Linked DNA regions of Homo sapiens: region 2 is linked to region 1. Evidence: fine-mapped expression QTL. A gene starts in region 1. The other region holds a variant in brackets. All regions are shown on one strand. Distances are between the middles of the regions.

Evidence for each region. PIP is the estimated chance that this variant, and not a neighbour inherited with it, causes the effect.
Region 2: its variant is fine-mapped to the expression of BCLAF1 in whole blood (TOPMed, PIP 0.97).

Annotation. Positions count from the first base shown.
Region 1 is chr6:136,283,831-136,299,109 of GRCh38, forward strand. It overlaps BCLAF1 (BCL2 associated transcription factor 1), which reads right to left and starts at 6,016. Exons shown (of 13, transcript NM_014739.3): 1 at 5,883-6,016. LOC124901408 (a long non-coding RNA gene) reads left to right here and starts at 6,184. Exons shown (of 4, transcript XR_007059784.1): 1 at 6,184-6,327; 2 at 10,866-11,195. RefSeq lists enhancers at 4,810-5,406, 4,932-5,051, 5,407-6,003, 5,422-5,541, 5,488-6,687 and 2 more.
Region 2 is chr6:136,246,547-136,261,451 of GRCh38, forward strand. It overlaps BCLAF1 (BCL2 associated transcription factor 1), which reads right to left. Exons shown (of 13, transcript NM_014739.3): 12 at 14,719-14,905; 13 at 10,081-14,569. The coding sequence ends at 14,564. MTFR2 (mitochondrial fission regulator 2) reads right to left here and starts at 3,765. Exons shown (of 8, transcript NM_001099286.3): 1 at 3,430-3,765; 2 at 2,491-2,607. The coding sequence starts at 2,553. RefSeq lists enhancers at 3,215-3,434, 4,085-4,234. The variant T/G (reference allele first, on the strand shown) is at 11,140.

The DNA.
Region 1 (15,279 bases):
TAAGGGAAACACTAAAAAAGTAGCAAAGTCAAAAAGCCAAGCAAGATTGGGTACAAAAACAAAGGATTTCTAAAGGACATATAAGTTTAGTTTTTAAAATATCAAAACCCCAAGTGGCCAGAGAAAAAAATGGCAATCTTCTAAACTGGAGTACTGTCATAAAACTATTCTGACCTGGAAAGTCATTACTACTGATTCACTCCTAGAAGTGGTACAAGGCTCATTTTAGCTAACACTTCCCTAAACAATTCCAAAAGGCTAATTTATATATATATATACATATATATGTGTGTGTGTGTGTATATATATATATATATATATATATATATCCAGAGAAGACCCAACTGCCAGATCTCTTTACTCCGTCATGGTATTTTGAAGTTCAAAGAAAATAAACACTAGATATAAAAAACTGACAGAACAGGGAATACAGGCTGTTAGACCAGTGGATATACATTCCTGTTCACAATCTATAAATATATTCAAGTATCCACACCAATAACTCAAATAATACACAAAATGTAACACACAATAAATAAGTCAGTATCAAAGACTGATTAGTTCAACTAATTTTTAAAAAATGAAAGTCTATATACAAAGCACAATGCTAATTACTATAGGAAATGTATCTATGTAAGTGGTCCCTGCCTTCCAAAAACCAAATCGAGAACAGTTATCAGCAACAAATCATAGTAAACTAAACATCTAAATACCAACCATGTGCCAAGAACTGTGCTAGGTGACTTAAAGTAAATAAAATAATGTCATATTTGATCCTGATAATCTCATGAGCTACATATTAATCCCATCTTTCAAATACAGAGAACCCTAAACTTTCCAGATAACTTGAGATAAGTGCCTTACATGCCAGGCACTACTATTCTAACGTTGGGAATACAGCATTTTAAGTTAAGACTTAAGCTCCCTACTCTCTTGAAGCTTTCAGAGAGGGGAAGACAGAAAACAAGGAAAAAATCAAATAGTGGCAAGTGCCACATTGGAGGGGGGGGAAAAGTACAAGTTAACATGCAGAGGAGGTGGGCAGGGGGACTACTTACTTAGGTGGATCCTTGGGCCCTCTTTAAGGAGGTAACATTTGGGCCTAAAGACAGGGAACACTGCAAAGATTCACAGAGGGAAGACCATACTAGGCAGAGGACACAAACTTAGCAAATTCAGGACAGAAAGACCAATAAGAAGGTTGAGACAACGTGATCAAGGAGTTGAGGGTATGAAATAGGGCAGCAGGAGGAGGAATGGACCAGATGAAATAGCATCTAGTAGATCATCAAAAGGGATCAGGATTTTACTCGGTTGAGAAACCCTTGCAGGGTTTTTGCTTGGGTGAGTCACTCATCTGATTTACATTTTAAGATGGCTGCTATATAAAAAATAAACAGCAATGAAAAAAAGAGGCAAATCCAAGATGTGGTTTGTCAAAATGACTTGTTAATGGATTGTTAGGGGTGTGAAGTACAGAGAGTGAGGAAAAATGAAAAATCACTAGTGCCCTTAAATTCTAGGTTTTAGATTCAAGCATCTGGGAGGACAAGTTTGGGGGAGAAAACAAAAGATGTGTTTGCCGTTTTTCGTGCCCACAGTCGGAGTGTAAATGGTTAATCCAAAATTTGACTGAAATCTCCTGACTCCAAATCCGGTGCTCTCTCTTCAATACCCTAAAAGGTGCTTGATGTTTCCAAAACCCAAATACAAAACTGAAAATGCCAAATTAATCTTCCCTTTATTACAACCAAGATCATTTGTTAATAGATTCCCACTTGTATACAGAAATAAGGAATAAATTGCCATATGTATCTTTAGCCAATTGACAGACCAACCAATGAGGAACACAGGATAAAATAAAGCAGGTTTTATTTTTAAAAATAAGGTTCTTAAATATCTAAACAGAGCCTATCTTTCATGAAATAATACATAATGACCAGCTAGAACATAAGTGATCAGAAACCAGCTAGAAAACAATTTATCAGGCCAGGAATGGTGGCTCACGCCTGTAATCCCAGCACTTTGGGAGGCCGAGGTGAGCGGATCCTGAGGTTAGGAGTTTGAGACCAGCCTGGCCAACATGGTGAAACCCCGTCTCTACTAAAAATACAAAAATCAGCCAGGCGTGGTGGTGCACGCCCATAGTCCCAAGGTACTCCAGAGGCTGAGGCAGGAGAATCACTTGAACCCAGGAGGCGGAGGTTGCAGTGAGCCAAGATTGCACCACTGCACTCCAGGCTGGGCAAGAGAGAGGCTGTCTCAAAAAAAGAAAAAAAATGATCAAGGTAACTGGGTTCAACAAAATACCCAAGACAAAGCCACCCAAAATGAATTCTTTAAGATTACTATTTCAAGCATACTTGATCCCAGTCTTCATTTTAGCAGGCTCAAGGAGTTTGGTCCCCAGATTGTTGTAAACAAAGTAATGCTATTTCCATCTTTTCAAATCCTAAAAATATAGCCCATGACTATTATTCCAGTAGTCTAGATTCAATTCCTGGCTCAGCCATTAACTAGCTGCCCAACACTGAACAAGTTACCTTCATCTGTCAGCTTCAAATTCTGCAGGTGTTTTTTTGTTGTTGTTGTTTTAAAGACTACTAATGGTACTTCCTTACAAGTACAGGGTTAAATGAACTAAGTAAGGCATGTAAACAGCTTAGTTTAATGTTTGGCCCGTGGTATACAATCTAGCATTAGCCATCATTATTGGTAACCCTTGTTTAGGCAGCCTTTCTGCAAGCTAACCACGTTTACTTAAAATGATTCTTGCATGTAAGGTTACCTAATATTTTTGATACAGCATTAATCAGCATCATTTAGAAGTCTTTCTAGACATGCTTAATAAAATGGGCTGGGTGCGGTGGCTTACACCTGTAATCCCAACACTTTGGGAGGGCGAGGCGGGCGGATCACCCGAGGTCAGGAGTTCGAGACCAGCCTGGCCAACATGCCAAAACCCCGTCTCTACTAAAAATATAAAAATTAGACGGGCGTGGTGGCAGGCGCCTGTAATCCCAGTTACTCTGGAGGCTGAGGCAGGAGAATCGCTTGAACCCATGAGGTGGAGGTTGCAGTGAGCCATGATCATGCCACTGCACTCCAGCCTGGGTGACAGAGCAAGACTCCATCTCAAAAACAGAAAAACTAGCCGGCCTTTGTGGTGTGCACCTGTAATCCCATGTAATCCCAGCTACTGGGGAGGCTGAAGCACAAGAATCACTTCAACCTGGGAGGCAGAGGTTGCAGTCAGCCAAGATCACGCCACTGCACACCAGCCTTGGCGACAGAGCAAGACTGTGTCTCAAGAAAAAAAAAAAAAATTAGCAGGACATGGTGGCGGGCCGGCGCCTGTAGTCCCAGCTACTTGGGAGGCTGAGATACGAGAATCGCTTGAACCAGGGAAGCGGAGGTTGCAGTGAGCCGAGATGGCGCCACTGCACTCCAGCCCGGGCTACAGAGCGAGTCTCTGTCTCAAAAAAATAAATAAATAAAATTAAAGTGTTTGAAAACTCTAAAATATTACACAAATATAATCTAGTATTATCTTCGTGTTAGTATATTCGTTGGTTTTCAGCCTTAGGGACAGTCAGATAAAATATTAAATGCTATGACTGAGGTAACACTTATTACCTGAGTATAAACAATTAACAAATTCATATCAAACAAGTACCCAGAGATTTTAGCTTCTTAATTCCCTCTTCTACTTATTTGGTAAATAACAAATCACTGTAAATTACACAGCTGAATTCAGCTAGTGTGCAACTACTGATTTCCAACGTAGTTTCCAGAAACTCCCAAACTAAGTCCTATGTAGAACTGATAAAACTTTTCTCCATTTCTAAGTCTTCTCATCACATAGTTAACCTCGTACAGCTTGCTGCCCACAAAAGTTGTTTAATAAATTCAACCGAGGCCAGGCGCAGGGGCTCATCCCTGTAATCCCAGCACTTTGGGTGGGCCAGGCGAGTGGATCACCTGAGGTCAGGAGTTCGAGACCAATATTGTGAAACTCCGTCTCTACTAAAAATACAAAAATTAGCCCGGTGTGGTGGCGGGCGCCTGTAGTCCCAGCTACTCGGGAGGCTGAGGCAGGAGAATCGCTTGGACCCGGAGACGGAGGCTGCAGTGAGCCGAGACTGGGCCACTGCACTCCTGCCTAGGCGACAGAGCGACATTCCGTCTCAAGAATCAGTCAATCAACCAGACCTGAGCCTACCAGTGAGTAGTACTTTTTACACGTCTGTCTTCAAGTCTTATACTACCACTGTTCCTCAAAGTCAAGAAGGGCTCTGGCTAAACAGCTTCCTTTGCCACCATTTTAATTATCTGAATTAAACAAGATATTTCAGTATTCACCACAATGTACTGGTTGAAACATGAAATCACTAAGAGAAGGTGCTCCAAGGTTGTTTACCATGAGCTACCTTTTTTAAGTGACAAGGTCTCGCTCTGTTGCCCCCGCTGGAGTGCAGTGGGACGAGCACAGCTCACAGCAGCCTCAAACTCCCGCCGAGGGGCCACTTTTTCCCTCCCATCAAATTACCTATCCTGAATTGGTCATGATCAAACAAAAATACAAAAGCCTTGTAGCAGTTTTTCCTACGTAAAGGTTATTTACTGCCTGAACAGTATCCTAACCATTCCAACTAAAGTCGAACTGAAATGAGAATTCACAAGAGGAACAAGAAATTTTGTTTTGCTTTGTAACACCAAAAAATTTAAAAGAGGCTGTTGCAGTGAGGTACAAGTCTGAAGTAGCTCATCTTTTTCGTCAGTGTTAGCCACACTTGCTTTCAACTTCAGTCTTAATTTGTTTCCAGTTCTAAAATGCTTTTTAAAAAAGTCTGAGGTAGCAAAGTAGCTGCTGGTACTTCAGCTTGATTCTGAAGAAATAAATCTTAAAAGCGAATCAAGCCAACTCATGAATTTAAAATGAAGGCAAAGTCCAATTCGCCACTCCCACCCATTTCTCACACCAGCTGTCCACCAATCGTGGCTGCAACATTTCTGACACGACTAAATGGGCTGAATCACTTGAAAAGACTCGGCTTCGCTAGTACTCATGAAGAACCGCACTTTCAGCCGGATGGGGCAGGGCCACGCTCAGAACCACCAGCTAAGACCCAATCCTCTCGCTAGGGAACCGTAACTAGGCAACCAGCACCAGTCAACAGCGCGCGCTCGCTTCAAAACAGCAGGTTGCCGCGGGTACCGAAATTAACTCCAGAGAACCAGGGTCAGCAGCGAGAGGCAGAACAGAGCACTAAAACCTAGTAGCATCACAAAAACGAGGCATTAACTGACGGGTGGTCTGAAGCCGGAGGGCAGTTTTAAAGACCACGCGAAAAGGGGTAGACCTACTCAACGCACTTTGCTGCGGGTCACAGTTATTTTCTCAAAACCCCACAGGCCACGAAGAAAGGTGGCAGTCCCAGCCAATGAGAGGCGGACACAAGTTGCACCTCCAGCGGCCGTCGGCGCCATAGGCGGGGGAGAGAAAAATGAACGAGCGCGCGTGCGCGGAGCGTTCAGTCGGGCGCGCGCAGAGGTACGGGCTGAAGAAATGGGGGAAGGGTGGAAGAGGAAGATATGCGCACGCGCACGGGAGGCCGCGCGGGCTGTGGGTCTCCAGGCAGGTTCGCAAACACGCGCGCGCCCGCCGTTAGCACTGCTCAGCGCCCCCGCCCGGCCTTTTCGGCCCGTAGTGCCTCGAAAACCTGAGAGAAGCTAACGAAAAAACGCATAAATAACGGCGCAACGTCTCCTTGGTTCTCCTTTCGCCGCCAACCCGACACCACCCACAAAAGAGTCAAAAATATGGCCTGTCCTCGGTCTTCACTGCCCCTGGAGTAACTTGAATACATTGCGAGGCCTACCTGACACGCCGAATCGCGGTTCCGGGAATTTATCTCCGTTGCAACCACACAGCGGCCATTTCCCGACTCAAGAACGCGAGGAAAACCATAGAGCTACCTTCGACGCGCTAGCACGTCTCCGTCACTTCCGATCTGGGGCGTGGCCTCGGGTGCCGCTAAATATGCGGGCAAGCCCCGCCCACCCTTCCGCTCCGGTCCGGCTTCCTGGCTGCTATTAAGATGTTGCCTGCGGCCTTCTGGGAAGTCGCGTGGCTGGTCTCGCGGGAAGATGTGACGGCTCCGCCCTCTGGCCCGTAGCGTCAGCCTTGGCCGGAGAGGCGGTAGAGTAGGGTGGGTGTTTTGTCAGGCCTGAGTTAGCTTCGCCATACGGCGCTTTTCGCTGGTGTCTCTGCCTCGTTCTGAGTAGACCCCCTAGACCTCACCGCCGCCCCTGCGTTTTACCTCAGTAAGCTCGTCTGGTCTGTTCTTTCTGTGGGGCCGGCTCAGACCAGGCAAAAAACAAAAAGACAATCCCACACTGAGGAAAAGACCAGGAGGCAAGACGTGGCTGTAATTGCAGACACGCTGCTCCCTCAGCCAGCAAGCGCCACTTTTCCTCTTGGACGCCTAACTGGAGATTAGAAAATGTGGCTTTTGGTTTGCTATTAAATTCGGCAGACGCACTTAGTTGAAAAATGGCCACGATCTAAATCCCTTTCGTGGCGTCTGATCAAATCGGAGCTCAAGCCGCAGCAGCCGGAAACCTCTTAGGCTGCTCGTGCCAAAGAAGGCCGCCCTTCTGGCGGCGTGATGACAGCTTTACCACATCGGCAACGTTGGCATAGGCATGAAAAAATAAAGAGCACGAAGCAGTTGAGCTTTCAGCCTGTGACGATGATTTGTGGCAGCCGAGGAACACAGCCCAACGTAGCTTGGTTGTCCAGAATTATAAGTCAGATTATAAATAGGCAAGCCACATTCGATTTGAATAGAATTTAAATAACAGCCGTAGCACATTTTGCATTAATACTTCTCCGGGCTGCACTTTCTTAGGGCCTAAAACCGCTATTGCTTTGATGTTTAGAGATGTTAACTACCTTGATGGATTTCAGACTTGTAATTAGCAACCAGGGTGTCAGTGAGTGAATCGAAACTAGGATTGGGCCCTGGTTGTGAATTTAACACTGTGCTTAGAGCATTCTTTCTTCACAGTCCAGTTTACCAGCTGAACTAGAAAAACGACAACATTTTCATGGAGTGAATCGTAGGTTTTTTATTGTACAGTCTGTCCCTCACCCCATTACCACCTCAGGATGTGGACACAGAAATCCTTGGCCTTTTTGTTGTGCCCTGATGTCCCAAGCATTCGCAGGTTCTCAGAAATATTTGTTGAGTGAATGAACTATATTTAAAAAAAAAACAACTAAGGGCTCAATACACGTCTGCTATTCTGCATGTATTGGGAGTCGGGGCGCTCCCAATACATGCTGTTATTCATTTATTCAAAATACCCCAAATTGCAGGCTAGGATATTATCTTCGACCTCCCTCTGCAATTCTATTGCACATGTGTTGAAAATGAAGTATCTATTTGAGGCAATATAACTGATTATGATTTTATTTACATAACATGAGGTAGTAACAAAGGAGATCCTTTGGAACAAAGCCTTTAGTAAGTGGAAGTTATACAGACTTCCCTTGAAATAGATCCATTTGATACGTGATGCTTTCCCAATCTACAAAGTAGGAGGTTCTTGAATTTAGATGTTTTATGCACATTCTTATTTTCAAAACCTGAAATTCCACCATTACAGATTCATTCTTTGTAATAAATTTTTTTCCTATTAAAATACAAACGCCGAAAAGAGCAGAGGAAAAAAGAGCCCATTTAACAAATGAGCATTGCAGAAAAATAGAACATTATCTCAAGAAGAAATACAAGTTGTAAACAAATGACCAAACTGCTAAAAAGGTACAAAGAGAATGCTGAGATAAATTAGTAAGCTGATTTTAATTTTAAAAAAAAAAAAAAAACAGAGTCTCGCTCTGTCGCCCAGGCTGGAGTGCAGTGGCGCGATCTCGGCTCACTGTAACCTCCGCACCCCCAGGTTCAAGCAAGTCTCCTGCCTCAGCCTCCCAGGTAGCTGGGGTTACAGGCTCCCGCCACCAAGCCTAGCTAATGTTTGTATTTTCAATAGAGACAGTGTTTCACCATGTTGGCCAGGCTCGTCCCAAAGTCCCGGCCTCAAGTGATGCGCCCGCCTCAGCCTCCCAAAGTGTTGGGATTACAGGCGTGAGCCACCGCGCCCGGCAAGGTAATTTTAATTTATGGTCATGGAGAAGTTATTGTTAATACGATTATAAAACTCTTTCTTGAAAGATATTGCTTCTGTTTTGGTTTGATTTTAATTTAAGATAATTGAAAAAGAGAAATGGGCCAGACGCTGTGGCTCACGCCTGTAGTCCCAGCACTTTGGGAAGCCGACACGGGCGGATCACTTGAGGTCTGGAGTTCGAGACCTGCCTGGCCAATATGGTGAAACTCCGTCTCTTCTAAAAATACAAAAATTAGCCGGGCTTGGTGGTGGGCACTTGTAGTCCCAGCTACTTAGGAGGCTGAGGCAGGAGAATCGCTTGGACCCGGCAGGTGGCGGTTGCAGTAAGCCGAGATCACACCACTGCACTCCAGCCTAGGCGACGGATCAAGACTGTATTTCAAAAAGAAAGAAAGAAAGAAAGAAAATGAAAAAAGAAATGGAGACAAGAAAAGGAAAAAGAGAAATGGAGAAGAATGGATATGTGAAAAGGACAAAGATAAGAAGATAGGAATGAGGATGGGGTTGGAAGTCTAGCAGGAAGGCAAGCTCCAAGACCTGACTGGTTTTGCTTGGTTTGTTTTGTTTATCTTTTTAGATGGAACATCTGAACTATTTCCGTATTTGGGGAAATTGAAGCTGAAGTGGTATTTGGAGTCTCACTCTTCCCACTCCCTGAAAATACTGGCATTGGGAACCCAACAGTAGTAGTGGGAAGCAGGCAGCAGAGGAAACGTGACCAACAGAGATTCCCTAACTAGAGTGCTGATGGGGCCGGACTTTGGCTGTAGTTCCTGCTGCATGGCCTCCATTTGTGCATATCCCTCTACAGGCTTTGTGCTAATTTCTTTTTTTAATTTTAAGTGATAAAATGTTCATTGATTCTTTGAGCTAGCTGGTATCCTTCCAGTAAATTTCTTTTCCTGATGAGTTAATCAGAATTGGTTTCTTTTGTTTGCTAAGAACCCTGAACTCCATGTCACAGTTTTGAGTAGAAGCAGGTCCTATTTATGAGGTCAGTTTTCCAAATGATCTGGCATTTTTTTAGATCTGTACCAGTGAAATAAATGGTTCCCCTTGTCTAGACTATTTCATTCCTACTGGTGAACAAATTGACTAGGATATTTTCCTTATTTTTCTATCCCCTTTTACATACTAAGAATGTAGAGTTATTTATTTTATTTAAAATATTTTAATTTTATTTTTTCAATTTTAATTATTTTGGTTTAAAATTACCAAAATTATTTAAGAATTATGTATTTACAGTGTTGTTCCTTAATATTCATCTCACCATTTTGAAAAAAAATTGAAATATCAAAATGAGCCAGGTATGGTGGCTCACACCTATAATCCCAGCACTTTGGGAGGCTGAGGTAGGAGGATCACTTGAGCCAAGAATTTGAGACCAACCTAGGCAATATGTGAGACCTTGTCTGTTCGAAAAATTTAAATATTTGGATTTTTTTGTTGTTGTTTTTTGGTTTTGGGTTTTTTTCTTTTTGAGACGGAGCCTTGCTCTGTTGCCCAGGCTGGAGTGCAGTGGCGGGATCTCGGCTCACTACAATCTCCGCCTCCCAGGTTCAAGCAGTTCTCTGCCTCAGCCTCCCAAGTAGCTGGGGTTACAGGCGTGCACCACCATGCCCAGCTAATTTTTGTATTTTTAGTAGAGACAGGGTTTTACCATCTTGGCCAGGCTGGTCTTGAACTCCTGACCTCGTGATCCACCTGCCTCGGCCTCCCAAAGTGCTGGGATTACAAGCGTGAGCCACCGCGCCCAGCCGAAAATTTTAAATATTAACCTAGTGTGGTGGTTCCCACTTGTAATCCCAGCTACTCAGGAGGCTGAGTTAGGAGGATTGCTTGAGCCTGGGAGGCGGAGGCCACAGTAAGCCAAGATTGTGCCACTGCACTCCTGCCTGGGCAACAGAGCGAGACTCTGTCTCAAACAAACAAACAGAAAAATATCAAAATGTGACTGTTAACTATTGTTTCTAAGTTCTATCAAGATTAATGCGCATCTTTCTCAGAAAGATGGAAAAAACAAATAGAACATTAAATTCTTTCAAAGTTTTCATAAGAAATCTTTGCCCAGAAATTATGCCAGCTTGCTGTTTAATGTAACTATTGAAGAACAAAGAGGGAACCCCCCCTAAAATGGGGCAACAGAATCATGATGGGATTCATACCCAGAAATCATTTCTTCCTTAGGAGAGGTTATAAGAGTTACAGAACAACTCCTTCTTTTAAAGCAGTTATCCAGTTGCCAACAAATATCTCTGTTTGCCCCCTGAAAAGTCTGAAAGCTCAGTTCTACCCAGACAATTTATCTCACAGAAGGCTAAAATCACCTAAGCAAAGGGCTGCAACCAATGATGATATTTAAAAGTAGTGAAATACAGAGCATAGAGTATTGCAGGTAGGAGTGAGATAGGCTGAAATTTCAGCCTCATTGCTTATTTTAAAAGAACTAAGAATTAAGCCTGGCCTGGAGAGGGAGTCACCGTTGATATTGACAAGCCCTAATGCCGGTTTTCTTAAAGTGTAAAACAGAAGCCAACTCATGAGAATAACCTAGGTTGTTTAAGAGAACTGAGTCTCATTACACATTTATTGAGGCAGAATCTGTGGGGGTAAGGATACACACTAAAGTTTTAGAACCACTGATTTATTGAAGACCTGTCATATTCTAGATATTACAGACCAGACCAAGGGTCTCCAACTCCCAGACCAGTCCACACAGAAGGAGGTGAACATCAGTCCAGCGAAGCTTCATGTATATTTACAGCCACTCCCCATCACTTGCATTACCATCTGAGCTCTTCCTCCTGTCACATCAGTGGTGGCCTTAGACTCATAGGAGCGTGAACCCTATTGTGAACTGCGAGTGCAAGGGATCTAGGTTGCAGGCTGCTTGTGAGAATCTAAGGTCTGATGATCTGTCACTGTCTCCCATCATGCCAACATGTGATCATCTAGTTGCAGGAAAACAAGCTCAGGGCTCCCATTGATTCTACATTATGGTGAGTTGTATAATTATTTCATTATATATTACAACATAATAATAGTAGAAATAAAATGCACAATAAATGTAATGCACTTAAATCATCCTAAAACCATCCTACCGCCCTCAGTCTATGAAAAAATTGTCTTCCACAAAACCGGTCCCTGGTTCCAAAAAGGTTGGAGACCACTGTTACAGACTACAAAGCAGTATGAGACATCGTTGCTGCTTCTCTGTTGTAACTCAAAATCCAGCAGAGAGAGGGTGTAACTCTCACATCAGATCTACATGGGAGCAAGTGCCTATGGTGAAAGAGGGAAAGAACTAGCATTTTAAAAATGAGTGGGATTTCACCCGTCATTTATTCATTTGTTTATTTAGTCAGCAAATATGCCTGAAGCATGTGCCATTTGTAGGTACTGAGCCAGGTGCTCAGGATGGAGCAGTGATGAAGCCTAACGCTGACACTGCTCCCAGGTAGACTGCCTCTCTGTGAGGGAGACAGAACACACGTAAGCAGACACAAATTGTACTATCAATCAGGACGTGATAGAAAATCAAAGAAGGAGACCTTATTTATCTATTTATTTATTTAACTTTTAAGTTCAGGAGTACAAGTGCAGATTTGTTACGCAGGTAAACTTGCATCCTGGGGGGTTGTTGTAAAGGTTATTTCATCACCAAGGTATTAAGCCTAGTACCCATTAGTTGTTTTTACTCATCCTCTTCCTCCTCCCACCCTCACCTTCCTAAAGGCCCTAGCATGTGTTCTTCCCCTCAGCGTGTCCATGTATGTGTTCTCATCATTTAGCTCCCACTTATAAGTGAGAACATGTATTTGGTTTACTGTTGCTGTGTTAGTTTGCTAGGGATAATGGCCTCCAGCTCCATCCCTGTTCCTGTAAAAGACATGATCTCATTATTTTTTTATGGCTGCATAGTATTCTGTGGTGTATATGTACCACATTTTCTTTATCCAGTTCATCACTGATGGACATTTAGGTTGATTCCATGTCTTTGCTACTGTGACTAGTGCTGCAATGAACATATGTGTGCATGTTCTCTTTATAATAGAACAATTTGTATTTATTTGGGTATATACCCAGTAATGGCATTGCTGGGTCAAATATTTCTTTTTTTTTTTTTCTTTTTTATATTCGAGATGGAGTCTCGCTCTGTTGCCCAGGCTGGAGTGCAGTGGCGCGATCTCGGCTCACTGCAATCTCTGCCTCCCAGGTTCAAATGATTCTCCTGCCTCAGCCTCCTGAGTAGCTGGGACTATAGGTGCGCACCACCACGCCTGGCTAATTTTTGTATTTTTAGTAGAGATGGGGTTTCACCATATTGGTCTTGAACTCCTGACCTCATGATCCACCCACCTCGGCCTCCCAGAGTGCTGGGATTACAGGTGTGAACCACTGTGCCCTGCCTGGGTCAAATATTTCTGTTTTTAGATCTTTGAGGAATCACCACACTGCCTTCCACAATGGCTGAACTAATTTACACTCTCACCAACAGTATATCGAATTTCTTTTTCTTCACAACCTCGCCAGCATCTGGTATTTTTTTGACTTTTTAAGAGTAGCCATTCTGACTGGTATGAGATGATATCTCATTGTGGTTTTTATTTGCTTTTCTCTAATGATCCGTGATTTTTTTTTTCTGTTTTTTTGTTTTTTTGGTTTTTTTGAGACAGAGTCTCCCACTATCGCCAGGCTGGAGTGCAGTGGCACGATCTCAGCTCACTGCAACCTCCGCTTCCCGGGTTCAAGCGATTCTCCTGCCTCAGCCCCCCGAGTAGCTGAGACTACAGGCGCGCACCACCACGCCCGGCTAATTTTTGTATTTTTAGTAGAGACTGGGTTTCCCCATGTTAGCCAGGATGGTCTTGACCTCTTGATCCACCCGCCTCGGCCTCCCAAAGTGCTGGGATTACAGGTGTGAGCCACAGCGCCCGGCCTGATACCATTATAATAATTGGAAAGATTAGAGAGAATGATAGGGAAGGGAAGAATGAAACAGATTGGGAAAAGGGAAGGAAATCAGGAATTCCATTTTGAATATATTAGGCTTGATATGTGTGTGAAACTTTTAAGTACAGAGGCAAGGTATGAAGTTAAATGTGTGCATCCGTGGTTCAGAGGTGAGTTCTAGCCAAGAGATAAAGCAAAAAGATTATATTTAGAATTATTGGATGAGGCTTGGCGCATTGGCTCACACCTGTAATCCCAACAATTTGGGATGCCAAGGCAGGAGAATGGCTTGAGCCTAGGACTTCAAGACCAGCCTGGGCAACATAGGGAGACCCCGTCTCTATTAAAAGTTTAAAAATTGGTTGGGTGTGGTGGTGCACAACTGTAGTCCCATCTACTTGGAAGGCTGAGGCAGGAGGATTTCTAGAGCCCAGGATGTTGAGACTGCAGTGAGCCATGATTGCACCACTGCACTCCAGCATGGGTGACAGAGCGAGACCCTTTCTAAAAAAAAATAAAATAAAATAAGATAAAATCACAGGATGAGAAATATAGGGAGACAAGAGAAGACAGCCTAGGAGTGAACCCTAAAGAATCCCAACATTTAGAGATTTGTTAAAAGAGGAGGCGGAGCCAATAAAGGAGACTGAGAACAGCCTATGAAGTAGGAAATAAGTGAAATCAAATGTATTGGTTGTCTACTGCTGCGTAATGAATGACCCCAAATTTACCAGCTTAATGTTTACTATCTCACAGCTCCTGTGGATCAGAAATCTGAGAGTGATTATTTGGGTGGTTCTGGCTTAGGGTCCCTTGAAGTTGCACTCCAGCCTGGGTGACATAGGGAGACTATCTCTAAAAATAAATAAATAAGTCATTTTAAAAATCTCATTTAAAAATTTATCTATCTATGTAGAAACAGAAGAATCAACCTCAAAATGATACTGTTCTGTGTATATATTGAATGGCCACATCACTGGCAATTTTTAAAACATTTTCTTCCTTTGCTCTTCTGTATTTTCTAAAATTTCTACAATAAAAATTACTTTCATAATATTAATATCAAAAAACTTTTAAAAATGTAGACCATTGAATTTTATTTGAATTGTGTAAGATAATGAAGACCTAAAAACTGAGAGGTCTTGTTTTTGTTTTTTGAGACAGAGTCTCGCTCTGTTGCCCAGGCTGGAGTGCAGTGGCACGATCTCAGCTCACTGCAACCTCCACCTCCCAGGTTCAAGCAATTCTCCTGCCTCTGCCCCCCAAGTAGCTGGAATTACAGGCATGCACCACCACGCCTGGCAAATTTTTGTATTTTTAGTAGAGACGGGGTTTCACCATGTTGGCCGGGCTGTTCTCAAATTCCTGACCTCAGGTGATTTGCCAACCTCGGCCTCCCAAAGTGCTGGGATTACAAGCGTGAGCCACCTCGCCCAGCAAGTTTGTGTGTGTGTGTGTGTGTGTGTGTGTGTGTGTGTGGTTCTTCCAAATCAAGCGTAAAAGCTCTCATTTAATAAACAAGAAGAATAAGGATGGGTATGGTGTCTCATGCCTGTAATCCCATCACTTTAGGAAGCCGAAGAGGGAGGATTACTTACACCCAGAATTTGAACTGTGTGAGCCACTGTACTCCAACCTGGGTGACAGAGAGAGAACCTACCTCTAAAAAATACAAACATACATATATACATAATAAAATATCCATTACTAAATCACAATCTTGATAAGCCTAATTATAAACTGCTGCTAGGAGAATATTTGCTTCCAGAGAGAATCTTTTAGATTTGTTTTTGTGGGATTTTGGGGTTTTTTTTTCCTAGAGTGCTCTATAGTCCTCTTTTAGCTTCATGAATCTTCTGTCGAGCAATGAAGGGGAGTACTTGGTTCAACAAGAGAAAAACATATATAAAATTGTTTGCTTCCATTTAAAAGGAAACTTTACACTGAATTCCAACCAACTGTGATAGATAGATCTAAAAATGGCTTAATCCTTTGCAAGACAGTTATTTTTCAAAGTTCTATTTGTCATATTAGGGTCTGGCTAATTATGTTAAAAGCACCACTGGCTGATTTCTTAAGTTCCATTTTAGAGAGTATAGTGAAAGCACAGACCTGACTTTGTGTTTCTAG
Region 2 (14,905 bases), 37 kb before region 1:
TGTTGGGATTACAGGGGCGACCCACCACATCTGGCCATCTTCACCATTCTTATTATTTCATCTTCCCTCTATTCCTGGTCTAGTACCCACATTTTGACTTTACTAATTTTCCTACCAAGCATGGATTTTCTGGTTAATTATTTCAGTAATATGTTCAATGCCACTCAAAAATGGTTCATTCTTTTGATATTATGTGCTCCCACACTGCTAATGAATACACTACTGTAATTACTCTTAGCTAGGAAAAAAAAATCACAAAACGACAATATTTAGAAAAACTACAATTCCATGATGACTTCAGCTGGGTTCTCACAGGTATTCTGAAATCCCTTCATAACATGTTACATTCTATACCACATTGCCCAGAGCAGTCTCCAATCTCTGAAATCCCTTCTCAAATCCCACCACTTCATTACCTGCAAGTGACCTTGTCTCTGCTCTTACTGAGAAAACCGAGAACTTCAACTTGACATACCTCAACTTCACTTCTCTTACTTAGCTCCATTCAAAATCTCTTTTCAGGCCAGGCGCAGGGGCTCACGCCTGTAATCCCAGCACTTCGGAAGGCCAAGGCAGGTGGATCACTTGAGGTTAGGAATTCAAGACCAGCCTGGCCAACGTGGTAAAACCCCATCTCTACTAAAAATATAAAAATCAGTTGGGCATTGGTGGCAGGCTCCTGTAATCCCAGCTACGCGGGAGGCTGGGGCAGGAGAATCACTTGAACCTCGGAGCAGAGGTTGCAGTGAGCCAAGATTGCACCACTGCACTCCAGCCTGGGCAACAGAGCAAGACTCCATCTTAAAAAAAAAAAAAATCTCTTTTCACTCTCTCTCACTTTCATTCTGTTCTTTAAGGCAGGACAGTCTCTCTCCTTTCCAAGACTTATTTAATTAGATCCCTTGCCCAACTACCTTCTCAAAGGCGGTGCTCAATCCTCTCTCATGTGGATCTTAAATTTCTTCCTGTCTGTTTCTTCCAGAGTGATGACAAATATGCTGAAGTTACTTCTAACTTTAAAAGAAAAAGAAAAATTCCATCCTGCGGCCCCTTCAGGCTGATGGCCTCTCTCAATTTCTTTTCACAAGCAAACTTTTCAAAAGAAGGTTGCTGATCCCACCTCCCTTCCTGATATTCTTCAAACTACTCCAACACAGTCCCATTCTCCACTTACAGAAATTCTTAAGGTCACCAATAACCTAATAGTGATAAACAAATGTTCAGCTGTTATCTTCAGTCTCTCGATTACTGATATTTAGAATGTTTCAATCACATCTAATGACATTTGCCATTATCGAAGTCCATGGCTTTAAATATCAAAACAAAGCAGATAACTCCCAAAACTGAATCTTTTTCTTTCCTACATACTAAAACCATATATATATCCAATTGTCTGAAGGATATTTCTACTTATATGTTCTAACATCACCTCTGACTCACCTCATCTCCATATTCAAACTAGTTTCTCATACTAAGATGCCCATTTATAATAATGGTACTATGATTCTTCAACTTACTTTTGCTTTAAAAAAATCTTAAATTATCCTTGACTACTTTCTTCTAATTCACCCCACCCGTCTTCCTTACAATCTCATATTACAGTTATCTTTATTGTTTCTTATTCCTCATATTTTAAGCATTATGAATACAACCATGTATTACTCCTCTGTATTACCTGCAGAAACAAGCATATTGTCTTAGATACAGCAGATTTTCAACAAGTAGATAAAATTTGATTTGCTTATGATATGGTTTGGCTGTGTCCCCACCCAAATCTCACCTTGAATTGTAATTATCCTCACGTGTCAAGGGTGGGGCCAGGTGAAGATAACTGAATCATGGGGGCAGCTTCTCCCATACTATGCTCGTGGTAGTGAATAAGTCTCATGAGATGTGATGGTTTTATAAACAGGAGTTCCCCTGCACAAGCTCTCTTGCCTGCCACCATGTAAAATGTGACTTTGCTACTCATTTGCCTTCAGCAATGATTGTGAGGCCTCCCCAGCCATGTGGAACTGTGAGTCAATTAAACCTCTTTCCTTTATAAATTACCCAGTCTCCGGTATGTCTTTATTAGCAGCATGAGAACAGACTAATACAGCTTATAATTCTCAGGCCTAAATCATCCTCTTTCCATTAGATTTATTCTGGATTTATTGAGCTTTAAATATTGAACTTGTTTATAAATTACCTTGAATAGAAGTTTTAATGTATCTGTGCAATAAATGTAATTCTGTGAAGCTCATGTCTATATTTTGCTTCCTTTGTATCTTCTGTTGGCATTTGTCCTATCAGGTAAATATGTTCTCAATAATCTTATCCCTCTTCTAACTCAAATCATCAAAGCTATACTATTACAAACTCACCTTTGTTCCAACTAAAAAGAAGCAACAACTTTGCCTTAAATCAAATGATTACATATAAGTCATTTTCAAAATGAAACCCAAGAACAAATACAACAGATCCATTCCAATCCAAAACGACATTTACCTGTTCTACAGGAACGCCAAAATATTCCAGCATCTCTCTTAAGATATTCAGTATGAGAGACATTGATGAAGCAAATACAGAAGCCAATTCAAAGGAACATTATCAGTTTCTTGGTGCCTTTGGGGAAAATTTTAGAAAATGTTACTCTTGACAAATAAATGCCAAATTGTACTACATAACCTGGAAAAGTCCTCTTGATACACGACACAGTCAACTAATTTCTCCTAGCCAGCATTCTTTTAAGTCAGAGAAAAAGAAAGGAAGGGGAAGTCTGGGGGAAAGAGAGGGTTGTAAAGGAAATTTCAATTAATTGGTTAGATTACATTAAAACCTCGTAGGATGTTTGAGCCTAGTTAATAGAGACCAATCAACAAACTGGACATCTACTTAGTAGGCAAGGCTTCAAGTTACATGCCACAGCGAAGCTCGCTCTTTCCTGAAAGCTTTGGGCTGAGACTCTTAGCAGATGGGTGAGTTTAGCCAACCCTTGAAAGCAGGCAAGGGACGACTCAGTTTTTAAAAAAATAAACAGTAGCTCTTCTCACACACATATCCTCACGTGTCAAGGGTGGGGCCAGGTGAAGATAACTGAATCATGGGGGCAGCTTCCCCCATACTATGCTCGTGGTAGTGAATAAGTCTCATGAGATGTGATGGTTTTATCAACAGGAGTTCCCCTGCACAAGCCCTCTTGCCTGCCACCATGTAAAATGTGACTTTGCTACTCATTTGCCTTCAGCAATGATTGTGAGGCCTCCCCAGCCATGTGGAATGCCCATCCCTCCTCACTCTTTTAAAATGAGAAGCATGAATTCCAGATACGGGACGTGACTTGGTCACCCATCTAGTAACAGGCCGTGACCAGAGCCGGATCGCGTCCCTCGCTTTGGTCACAAGCTTCCTGGTGCTCTCCAAACACAGCGTGGTAGCCTTGCTCACCTTCCTCCGAAGCCGAGCCCCCGGGAATCACCAGAACATCAAGCGGAGGGCGTTAGGAATCCTCAATCAAATTCCAGACTGCGCCACTCCTTGTGCAGATCGCTCAGACGTCTACCCAGACCTCGACCCAGTTTCCACCCGCGCGCCTCGGCTTGCAGCCACAGGCGGTAACGATGCCCTCAGCGAGGAATAAGAGGTCAACCCGGTGCCCAGCCCTGGAGCCTCACGCTCAGCCAGGGTAATGTTATGGGAAGCGCGCCCCCGTCCTCCTGCGCCCAACCAACCCACCTGCTAGTCCCTAGGACCGGACTGCTACTTCCGCATGACAGGACTGCTACTTCCGCATCCCAGGACGAAATCAAACTCCGCGGGCCAGGACCCGTAACCAGCCTCATTGGGCAAAACTGAAGATCGCTGCTTCTGATTGGTCATTGCATGATGTCAGGCAATTCGGGAAGCGACTGCTTTTCCTTCTCAAGAGGCGGGTCTTCCGAGAGTCAGCCAATAGGAGCTGACGGGCAGGGCAGGTCGCGTTAGGACAGCGTCGCTCCCGCAGGGCAAGGTTTTAGGTACAAACTCGTGAGCTGGACTCGCAGTCCGGAGTTCGTACCCCACAGAACTCTTCGCAGGGAGTGTCTTACTCGCTACAGCCGGACCCTAAGCGCATCCGCCTTCCCAAGTTCATCTGACACAAAATCGCGATTTATTTTTTGGTCATTTCATTTGTTCAGCTAATATTAAAATACTTGTGGAACTGGCAGAAGCCAAGCACTACCCCCGAGGGTTTTGCAGCTTTGCAGTGGCTAGGATTCATTCTTTCGTTCACTAAATACACCTACGTATCCAGGCTACCGAATATTGGGCCGGACACTCTCCTGGCTTAGCCGAGGATGGCAAGTGATATGACAGGTGATATCCCAGTTTTCATTTCTGATTTGAGGTTATTGGCTTCATACGAAATAGCTTCCTCTTCTGAATTTCAGCAAGACGTGCACTGGAGTGATATAACAATTTAAGATGTGTGCCTGCTACTGACATAATTTGAAAATCTAAGTTTTGAACTAATTTATCTATGGTCAACATCACTTATTCATTCAACCAATAATAGATATCTACTACGTAGCAGACACCATTCTAAGCACGGAAAATACCTTAATGAGAGGGCAGGTCCTCGTCCTCCTGGAGCTTACAGGCCAGCGGGGCATCTCGTTCCATTCTAACCCTAATTTGCTTTTCTCTATAGCACTTATCATATATATTTAGTTACGCTTCCACTACCACCAAACAAAATTGTAGACTCCAGGAGAACAGGAAGTTGTTTTGATCCATGCTCTATCTTTCCCCAGTGCTTTAGAAGAGTGTCTGGTATATAATAGGCATTCAGTCTATTTGTTGAATAAAATACCTAAATGTGGAATGACAGAAAAGATGATAATGATTTGGGACTAAGCAACTAGCAAAACAATTGATAGCAATAATAGTGATATGCCCAGTAGAGCTGGATACGGCTGAGTGAGCGCAGAACAAGGATGATGATGGATCAGAAACCCTAGATGGAGTAATTTTCTCAAGTTCCTTGTCCTTCCCTTTGCCCTTGTGAATAAATCACGACTTTATAACCCCCTCCCTTTCCCACTCTCTTATCAAACAGCAAACAGACAGGGCCAGAATGAAAACATCCCTCCAGAATGAGAACGGAACCACTACTCTTCCAGCTGCACTATTAACATAGGTTAATATTCCAACTGATTTAAGTAGCAAGGAGGACCCAGGTCAAATACTACATCCATAAATGCTTTGCTGACAACTTTCTTCTAAATTCTTCAGAGATATTTCTTCCAGTTTACTAAAGCATTCATAATTCCATTTTGACAAAAACATTTTATGTGATTGGACATCTTTTTCCATTGCTCATTTTTACACGAAATTAGATTTTCCTGAACTCTTAGAATGAGATAGGGTCCAAGAAAGCTTTTCTGACATCACAAAGCTAGCTTTTCTGTTGTCTCTGAGTAGTGTTCAAAAATATAGTGGCTTGCTTTCTGGAGTTTTCCTGTGTTCCCCTCCCCCAGTTTGATCCAGGTAGAAAACTTGCTATTCACAAGCTGCATGTTAACACTTTTTAAAGTATCTAGTTGTCAAGTATTAGCTCATTATATTGAATTAGCTCACTATATTGAGCTAGTAAGTCTATGTCCCTAAGATTTTTTACCTACTGACTCTGATTTCTGTCCTTTAAATATGTAACATGTTAAAATGAGGAGATCGGACAAGTATCAAATACCAGTCTCCTGATCCTATGTGATTTGAACATGTCTCTTCTCTAGCAAAGCCTTTTAAGGATTTGAACACAGCAATCAAGAACCTATCTTGGCTGGGAGCGGTGGCTCACGCCTGTAATCCCAGCAATTTTTAAGACAGCCCAGATTGTATTTGTTTCAAGCAGCAGCAGCAGACATAAAATTAAATCAAGCCTTTATAAATACGCAATTATCATTCTTTCATTTATACACACTCAAGGACCATTTATTACATAACTACAGTATGTATGCCATGCACAATACTAAATGCTAAAATTTTATTCTGGTGGAGACATGTAAATGGAATGAATTACTAGCCTAAAGGTATGTGCTGCATTCAGTGGCCCCTGAGCAAAAAGAGGAATTGGAAATTTTTTGCTAGGGTGTAAGACTTAAGATAGGTAAGTGAACAAGGAGTAGCATAAGGCAAAGTGGCCAAAAACAGTACATAGGGAGTTCCTACAGCTCATCATGACTGAGGTTCAGACAACAGGAAGACATCAATGCGTAAATTTTGGTTTTAAAATGACTGTAATTTTGCACTTGAAAAACATCCCAGAGATGGCAATATAAAGATGAAATTTATGGGTAGAGTCCAAGCTAAGAGACCAATGCAGCAGCTAGGGATAGTGATGAGCATCTATTATTGGGGGTTGAGGGGGGACGGCGGGGCGGCAGTGGAGAGAAGACAGAACACTTTATAGGGATGTCCAACTAGCTTAATGGATAAAGAACATAAGTTTGCAGTAGGATGGGGTACAGATGATGACAGTTTGGAGTGTTTAAGTTCCAGCAGAACTATCCAGGGAAGAGTTGGAGAGAAAAAATGGAGTTCAGGAGAGAAGTTTAAGAGGTAAATTTCAGAGTTACCAGCATCTAGATAAAAATGTTTGAAAACCTGTCATTCACAAAGTACTTCCATCCTTGTTCCTTCCACATACCAATGTTATTTACTATTATTTACTAATTTTTGCTTCCCTCCCCCCCCCTTTGTAAACTTAGCCAGAGACAGTAGCTGTGAAATGCTGGATTTGAAGTGCTAGAACATGTTTCACACTAACCTGAAATATGACAGCACCATGAAAACTCTTTATGGCTGTTCCAATTACTTTCAGGGCTTCATCTGAAATCTGTATTGCCTTTCTACTTCCTTTTAAACAATAGGTTGTTATCTTTTATCCTTTGGAATATCTGGAATATTCAAATGGTTTAAAATGGCAAGAGAACTTTGTATAATGGTAAGCTTGGAAATTTTGAATAAAAGTGGTATTTAAAATAATGTGAGGAAAGTTCGACATTGAAAATGAATAATTAGGCCGGGCGCAGTGGCTCACGCCTGTAATCCCAGCACTTAGGAAGGCTGAGGCGGGTGGATCATGAGGTCAAGAGATCAAGACCATCCTAGCCAACACGGTGAAACCGTCTCTACTAAAAATATAAAAATTAGCCTGCCGTGGTGGCCAGCGCGTGTAGTCCCAGTTATTTGGGAGGCTGAGGCAGGAGAATCACTTGAACCCGGGAGGTGGAGGTTGCAGTGAGCCAAGATTGTGCCACTGCACTCCAGCCTGGCGACAGAGCTAGACTCTGTCGCGAAAAAAAAAAAAAAAGACAATAATTAGCACTGAGAGGTTTAGTTTGATCACTTACACTTTTCTCCTACACCTTATCCTACTATACATAATACCTTATGCCAGAAACTCTTATTAGCTCAGGAGATGATCCATTTTTGTCTAAAATCCCTCTTATGTAAGGCAGTCATATTCCTTGATGAGCTTTAAACAATTTAGCACTGGGTTGGCATTATCAGGGGATTCTGAGGTATTAGATTTTCTCAGATGGATATTTAACCCTTTAGACAGCTGTCACACCTTAAAGCTTTTTCATCAAAATTTTTATTAAATATAACCACACATTTCCAACTAATCTTTTATGACTTAGGATTAACACTATGATATTGTGTTGTTCGGTTATGCAGTGATACTCCTAAACATTACTTAGCCAGGTGGGACTTACCTTGACTTTTCAACCCACTAGGGTATTTTAACTTTAGTTCTGCTGTCCTTTTCCTTAATGGCGACTGAGACTATCACAGGGCTTCTGCAAACGGTACATTCAAAACAGACTGTTGCTGTTATATATATGAAATTTATTACTGGGCAGTGTTGTTTGAGAACTATTTTTGAAATTTCTCCATAAAGGATCTGCTCCTTACCTGCTTTGTTGTATCAATACATCTCATTTTCAACTTATTCCCTCAGTGTAACACAGTGCAGGACTCACATTTGTCCAGGATACCAAAAAATTATGTTAAAAAAAGTCAACATACCATGTGTCTAAAATTTTTAGGCTTCCCAGTGTTTAGGAAAGAGGCAAGTCTAAATAGATGAACTCTGAATGAGAGACAGAGAACTTGATCCTCAAAAGTATCAAAGAGTTATTACAAGAATCCTGATTTGCATATTAATACCCCATTATTTGGAGCTAGCTCATTCAAAAACTAGAGCCTATGAATATATTATATAATGCAAGAAAATATTTTCACATATTATAGTGCAAGAATAAAAATGAGAAAAGGACAGAGCCTTATCTTGTTGCTGCTCTAGTGCCTAGCTCATACTTAACTAGTGAAACATAGAACTTTAAAACTGCAAGTTATATCCATGTGAACAGTTGCTTTAAGAATATACATCCTAATCCAATTACTCTGCTAGATATTCCTAATACCTGGAGCACTACCATATTCAGATAAGATGGTTTTAAGGCCTCTTATTATTACTGTTACACTCTGGCATCATGCCCTCAGCCACCAGAAAAAAATGTTGCAAGAAACACTCATTTGAAAACCTGTTCCTATTCTAGGAAGACTTATTCTAGGAACAGCAACATCTAAATGAAAACCTAAGGACAAGTATCTCAATATTTGGTAGCAGGAATAGTTATGCTTCCCAGAAGTGGTTTCATTTGACACTGAAAATTGCATACCTTATTTCCCTTTTTCATGTAGCTACTATTGGCCAATTCAAGCTCTGAATCTTTTTCCTTTAGTGACAGACTAGCCAAATACTTATTTCCTAAAGTGTTGCCCAAGTTGAGAATACAGAACAAAATCAAGATGTAATATTGTCCTGAGTGGGCCAGACAGCTAAATCTGTAACATGAGAAGCCATATGCTATTTTTCCCCCAATTCTCTGACCTCCCCACACCTCAACTAGAGCTTTACATACTAAAAGCTAAGATTCCAGAATCATTTTATATAACTCAGTTCTGTTAACTGAACCTTATCTTTTGTAAAGGACAAATATTCATGTTTATATAAATATGGAAGATTATCTTAAGGTTATATCAAGGGAAAGAAGTATACTTTGAAATCTAGAAAGGACTCCAAAAACAATGTGTTTTAGTTTTCCAGTAAGTCATGAATGGAACTGTTAATTTTTTCCTTTTAAATAAGCAGCCATCGATTTTTCACTCCAAGTTCTATCAGACTTTCATGACTTTTACATCCCATTTTCCAATTAAAAGTACAAATTAAGTTTTAAGTCATTTCTCCCAGCTGACAAATCCCCTTACTGCAGTATCTGAACACGATTACTCAAAAATCTGATTCCTCAGTTATATGCTGAGGTGGTATTACTCTACAAGTCTGTATCTTCAAGCCATTTGAATAGTATGCTGACATTAATCAGTTAATTACTGTAATCTTTTTTTTTTTGAGACAGAGCCTAGCTCTGTCACCCAGGCTGGAGTGCAGTGGCATCATCTCCGCTCACTGCAGCCTCCACCTCCCAGGTTCAAGTGATTGTGGTGCCTAAACCTCCCGAGTAGCTGGGATTACAGGCAAGTGCCATCAGCCCAGCTAATTTTTGTATTTTTAGTAGAGGCGGGGTTTCGCCATGTTGGCCAGGCTGGTCTCGAACTCCTGACCTCGGGTGATCTGTCCGTCTCAGACTCCCAAAGTGCTGGAATTACAGGCGTGAGCCACCACACACAGGCCTATCTTTTTTTAAAGTACATTTGGTAATGATATTCAACTTCTTCCAAAAACAATTCTGGAGTGGGGAAATCTTTTGGTAAGGTAAAAAATAAAAAATAAATTAAACCTGCAGGCTGGATATGTGAGAAGTAAATTAAAATTTAAAAATTCTGGCCAGGCACAGTGGCTCACGCCTATAATCCCAGCACTTTGGGAGGCCGAGAATTAGACTAGCCTGGCCAACATAGTGAAACCCCGTCTCTACTAAAAATACAAAAATTAGCTGGGTGTGGTGGTGCACACCTGTAATACCAGCTACTCAGTAAGCTGAGGTAGGAGAATCGCTTGCACCTGGGAGGCGGAGGTTGCAGTGAGCCGAGCTCGAGCCACTGCACTCTAGTCTGGGTAAGACTCCATCTCAATAAATAAATAAATAAATAAATAAATAAATAAATAAATAATTCAAAGTGCATTTAACATTCTTTTTCACGGCCACCTTACAAGTATCCTGAGAACTCAACAGAAAGTTTAGTTTTCCCTTCTAGTACAAATGAGACTGAAAAATTATTTTCCATAGTGAAGGACTCAAGGTAGCAAATAATCCACTATTCTGGAGGGTGAGTGGTATTTTTTATTTATTGTTGCTCTTCGCATTCCATGAAATTTGTAATCACTATGACAGTACCAAGCAAACACAGTTCAAGCTGTGATTATAAATCATTTCACACCACCTAAACATACAGTGTAGCTATGATCATGTACTTTTATTAAAGGCAGAGCTCATTATTAATGAAATCTGGAAGCTGGCCAACCCCAAAAGATTAAGAAAAATTCGATGTATATTCTTGGGGGAAAGGCATTAAAGCCTGCTCACCCAACCTTTTTCTATTTTCAAGAATATTACCTTCTGCACTTCATAAGTGCTACAAATCAGTTCACTGTGGTAAAACACCAAAAATATCCATAGGAAAAATTTTCCTATATACAGATTACAATTAAGACACATTATTTGAATGTTTCTAGTTGTGGTGGAATGCTATCCTAATAATGCCTGTTCTCTTTAATCAGTGAGATTCATTTTTAAAGGCCAAGGTATAGTCTAGTAACATAAAAAGAACTGGTACCCTTAATTAAATGTACAAGTTTGGTCTCATTACCATCATTGACACAAGTTAATCATTACTGCATGTTTCTAAAACAATAGGAGTCCAGCTCATAAATCAACACAATCTCTGTGGCTCTCAAGTCAATTAAATACAACTAGATTCCATATATTCCTGAATCCTAAGAAATGTAAAACTTGTTCATTTAAACTTCATTAGGACAGTGTACTAATTTTTAGTATCTACCCCAATAAAATTTGAAACATTTAATAATAGTATCAACTATTTGAGAACTCTAAACATGTAATGGATATTACTTTCTCATTTTAAGGC[T/G]CAAGAGATTGAGTCTAGCCAAATTAATCCCAATGACAATGAAGTTTATTCCTCCATTTGCCTTTCCTCTTCAACTCTGTAAATTGAGAAAGGCCTCTGAACTTCTCTTTCTGGATGTGAAAGTCTATTATTCCACAAGGAAACTTAAGGTACATCCCCACCAATGGGATTCCAGTTGAAACCCAGAAAAAGAAAAATAAGAAAAGTTAAACAAATGTTAATAATGCAGCATACTTTTATATAAGAAATTTGTATATAACATTACAATTATCCAGTATAATTAAGCTACCAATGATCTTACACAACACTTTACATGCATATGTATGTACACACAGAGTTATTTCTCTCACAGAATTTTTAAGGACTAATTTGCCATTTGTATGAGTCAAAATGTGTCAGTTTGTCTTAGTACACAAATTTCTGTGAAAATGCTTTGTTAAAACTGACAGGATGGCACATGGTAAGAATTATACCACATCTTACTTAAAGTGAATGAAAAGACAATTCTTTTTACTTATTTACTAGCTACTATGTTTTTAGAAAGAGAAGTAATCACCATATTATGGGTGATAAGGTCCCAGATTAACGTAAGAAAACGAGGACTAAACTGGACATCCAGAATTCCTTTATTTCAAAATAATTTTGGCTTAGATTTACCAACTGTAAAATTTCCCATTTTCCCAGGGGAGACAAGGGAAAAACAAAAACAAAAACAAAAACAAAAACAAAAACAAAAACAAGACAAAACAAAAAAACAGTAAAGAAAGGTTTGAGGGAGTTTATAAAGCATTTATCAAGCCTTACCACACCAGTAATCTTCCTAACAGATGCGCTGATATTCTAAAATAGGCCACAGAAATAAGATGTGTGAAATAGACACAGGTAAACAAACAACAGCAGTTATTACTTGTGACATTTTATTGGCGTATGACAATTTACAAGGGTCCCTGTTGCATCATTATACATCACACTGAGTAAGAATCGTTTAGCCATCTACATTCAATGTTACTGGGTAATATTTTTCTCAAATTATAATTCCCAACACTGATTTTACCTGTGACAAAAGGAACAATAGTAATTCCTTGAAGAAGACTAACTGGAAAAAACATTTTGCTTTTAGTATAAAAATTCCTAGGATGCTGAAAGGTACACATACACACCTAAAGAGTCATGGCCTTCTTAAACAGCTTTCTTAATCCTTTCTGGAAATATCCTTTGGTTCATTTTTATTGCCCCTCTCTAGGCAAAACAAAGTATGTTAACGCAGGTATCAGTGAGTTATTTCCTAGCACTTGTAAGCAAATATCCTTACCAAGAGGAACCATTCAACTTTTATAATATCGTAAAGCGTGGAGTTAAGATGTGTTTTTAAAAAATATACAGGCTTTTTATATGCTTGGATCTGAAAAAGGTAACATCCACAATGACATTCTATTACAGAGTTCTTACAATCACCCTAGCCTACTACACTCTGGTATAATACTCTTTCTTCAATTCTGTTTAACAGAATAAAAGTAACCAAAGGTTAAAGCAATGCATTTGAACTTAAAATATAACCTGCCCACAGGAATTAAGTAGTTTTATTCCCACTCCCTATTACATAATTTCTCAGATCCCCTTTTACCTATTGTCTTAAGTGGATAAGCACATAGTCATGCACACAGATTTGATGTCTAACCAAGTAACTGTTATGGTATTTATTTGTATACAATAAAAGGGTCATGAAAATTCTGTGTTGGGAATCACATCCATGTTGCTTTCACACGTAAATAAGTATTATTCTGAACAGGAGAATATTAGTTATGCCCTGATTAATGCAATACATACTTCCTTTGGCAGGTATTTCCTCTGCTTTAATAGACAATTTTAGAAAGACATGTTAACGGGGGAAAATCACACAATACTAAGGATCTGAGGGCCATAAACATCACATATGTTGAGTTTGCTTTTAGTTTTGTTTCCAACAGTTCTTAACCAATGTTCCTGGCTGTAATCTAGGTGCTAGACGCACTGCAAATCCTCGAAAGTGTTTAAGATGAAAGAGCAATACACTTAAGATCTTCAAAAGTTTACATTAACAGAATAAGCATTAGCTCCTTTTAACACACACACACAACTAAATTAACAAATGAAATGTGTCTACTTTTATATATGCCCATAAAGCAGACACTTAACATTGAAATTTACTATTTTAGATTTTCACTCCTTTAAGAGCTATCAATATAGACACAAAAGATAATTCACATTTGAAAAATTATCTACCTGAAGAATAGAACTCTTAAGAGGAAAAAGAAAAAGCCATTCTACAAAAACTGCAACTGAAATGGGGGGGAAAAAGGTTAGATCAATGCCGCAACAAGCTTCCTGCCAAAACTTTTATTGGTGACATTTGAAAAACAATTTTTTTAAAATACTATTAATGAACAGTATGCTGTGTTTCTCTATTTTTACTAATAGTTACACTACAAACTAATGTTCAGCTCAAATAAATATGTAAGATATGAAATCAGGTACTAATGTATCAACTTATTCTGCAGGATAGACCTCCTACATACCAACCCCAGGATTACAGTTTTTCTTCTGTTTAAAACTAGGATGTTCAGTAGAAATGGGGTTTCTATTTGCAGTATTGTTACAAACCAGTTTCCTCTCACAAATAGCTAATATCTAAGACCATGACTCAAACTATCAAATAGGAATAGAAAGAGAACACACAGTTTTGAACGCAAATAGAAAAGGCTCCTAAGAATGTTCTTTATAGGCCACTGCTTGCTTTCAGTAAAAATAACATTTTCTCAAAACTTTTCAATCTGATTTTTAATAGCTTGTACTTTTTAGCTATTGGCAAAGCTTTTTTTTTTTAATTCCTTCTTAAGCATTTGCTCAAGTGTTAAACTAGCTTAGTTTACCATAGTAACAACTTTTTGTCTGTGGTATACTTCAAAAATCAGTCACCCTACGATGTAGTGTGTTCAAATTAAACAGATGTATACAGTTAAAATAATTAGTGTAGTCTCTATAAACAATTTCTGTTCCAGGATTTATATGTAGAGCTAACGTTTACTTCAGAATAAAACATTGACAAACAGGGAAGGAAGAGAATCAGAACTTTCACAGAGCTGTACTTGACCATATCTTATAGACAAAGCAGAATTACAATGCATGTAACAAAAACGTTAAAAGTTTTAAAAGTTGATAGTTACAAATATGGTACGTAACAATTTTCTACTTTATTTCAGTACAATTTTCAACATACAGTCTACTATTTCTCAAGATATTTGAAGACTTAAAACAAAATTTCTATAGACTACTTGCAAACAGTAAAATTTAAGTAAAATGCTTACATTCTTATTTGAAAACAAAAATCAGGTAAAAAAAATGGTGGGTGCAAGTTCTGCTCTGTTGTAATCTTACTTCATATTTATTATTCCTAAAAGAGAGAGAAAAAATTAAAGATTAACAAAAGATGCGGAGAGTGAAAAGGAACCATATTAATAATTGTTCCTAAAAATGAAATAATTCACCCACCAAACCTATATCAAAAAAAATCTGTCAGAATCACAAGTTGAAATTTTATACCTTTTCTTCCTTGCGTCTGTCCTTCTTTTCTTCATTATTTTCCATGGTCTCTTCTTCATCTTCAACAATCCCATCCCCTTGGTATTTGTCATGAGTCCATTTAGGACTGCTACCTGATTTTTTGAAGTTAAAGCGCCCTCTGCCACGTTGAAAAGTACCACGACCTCTTCCTCTTTTGGCCCAATAA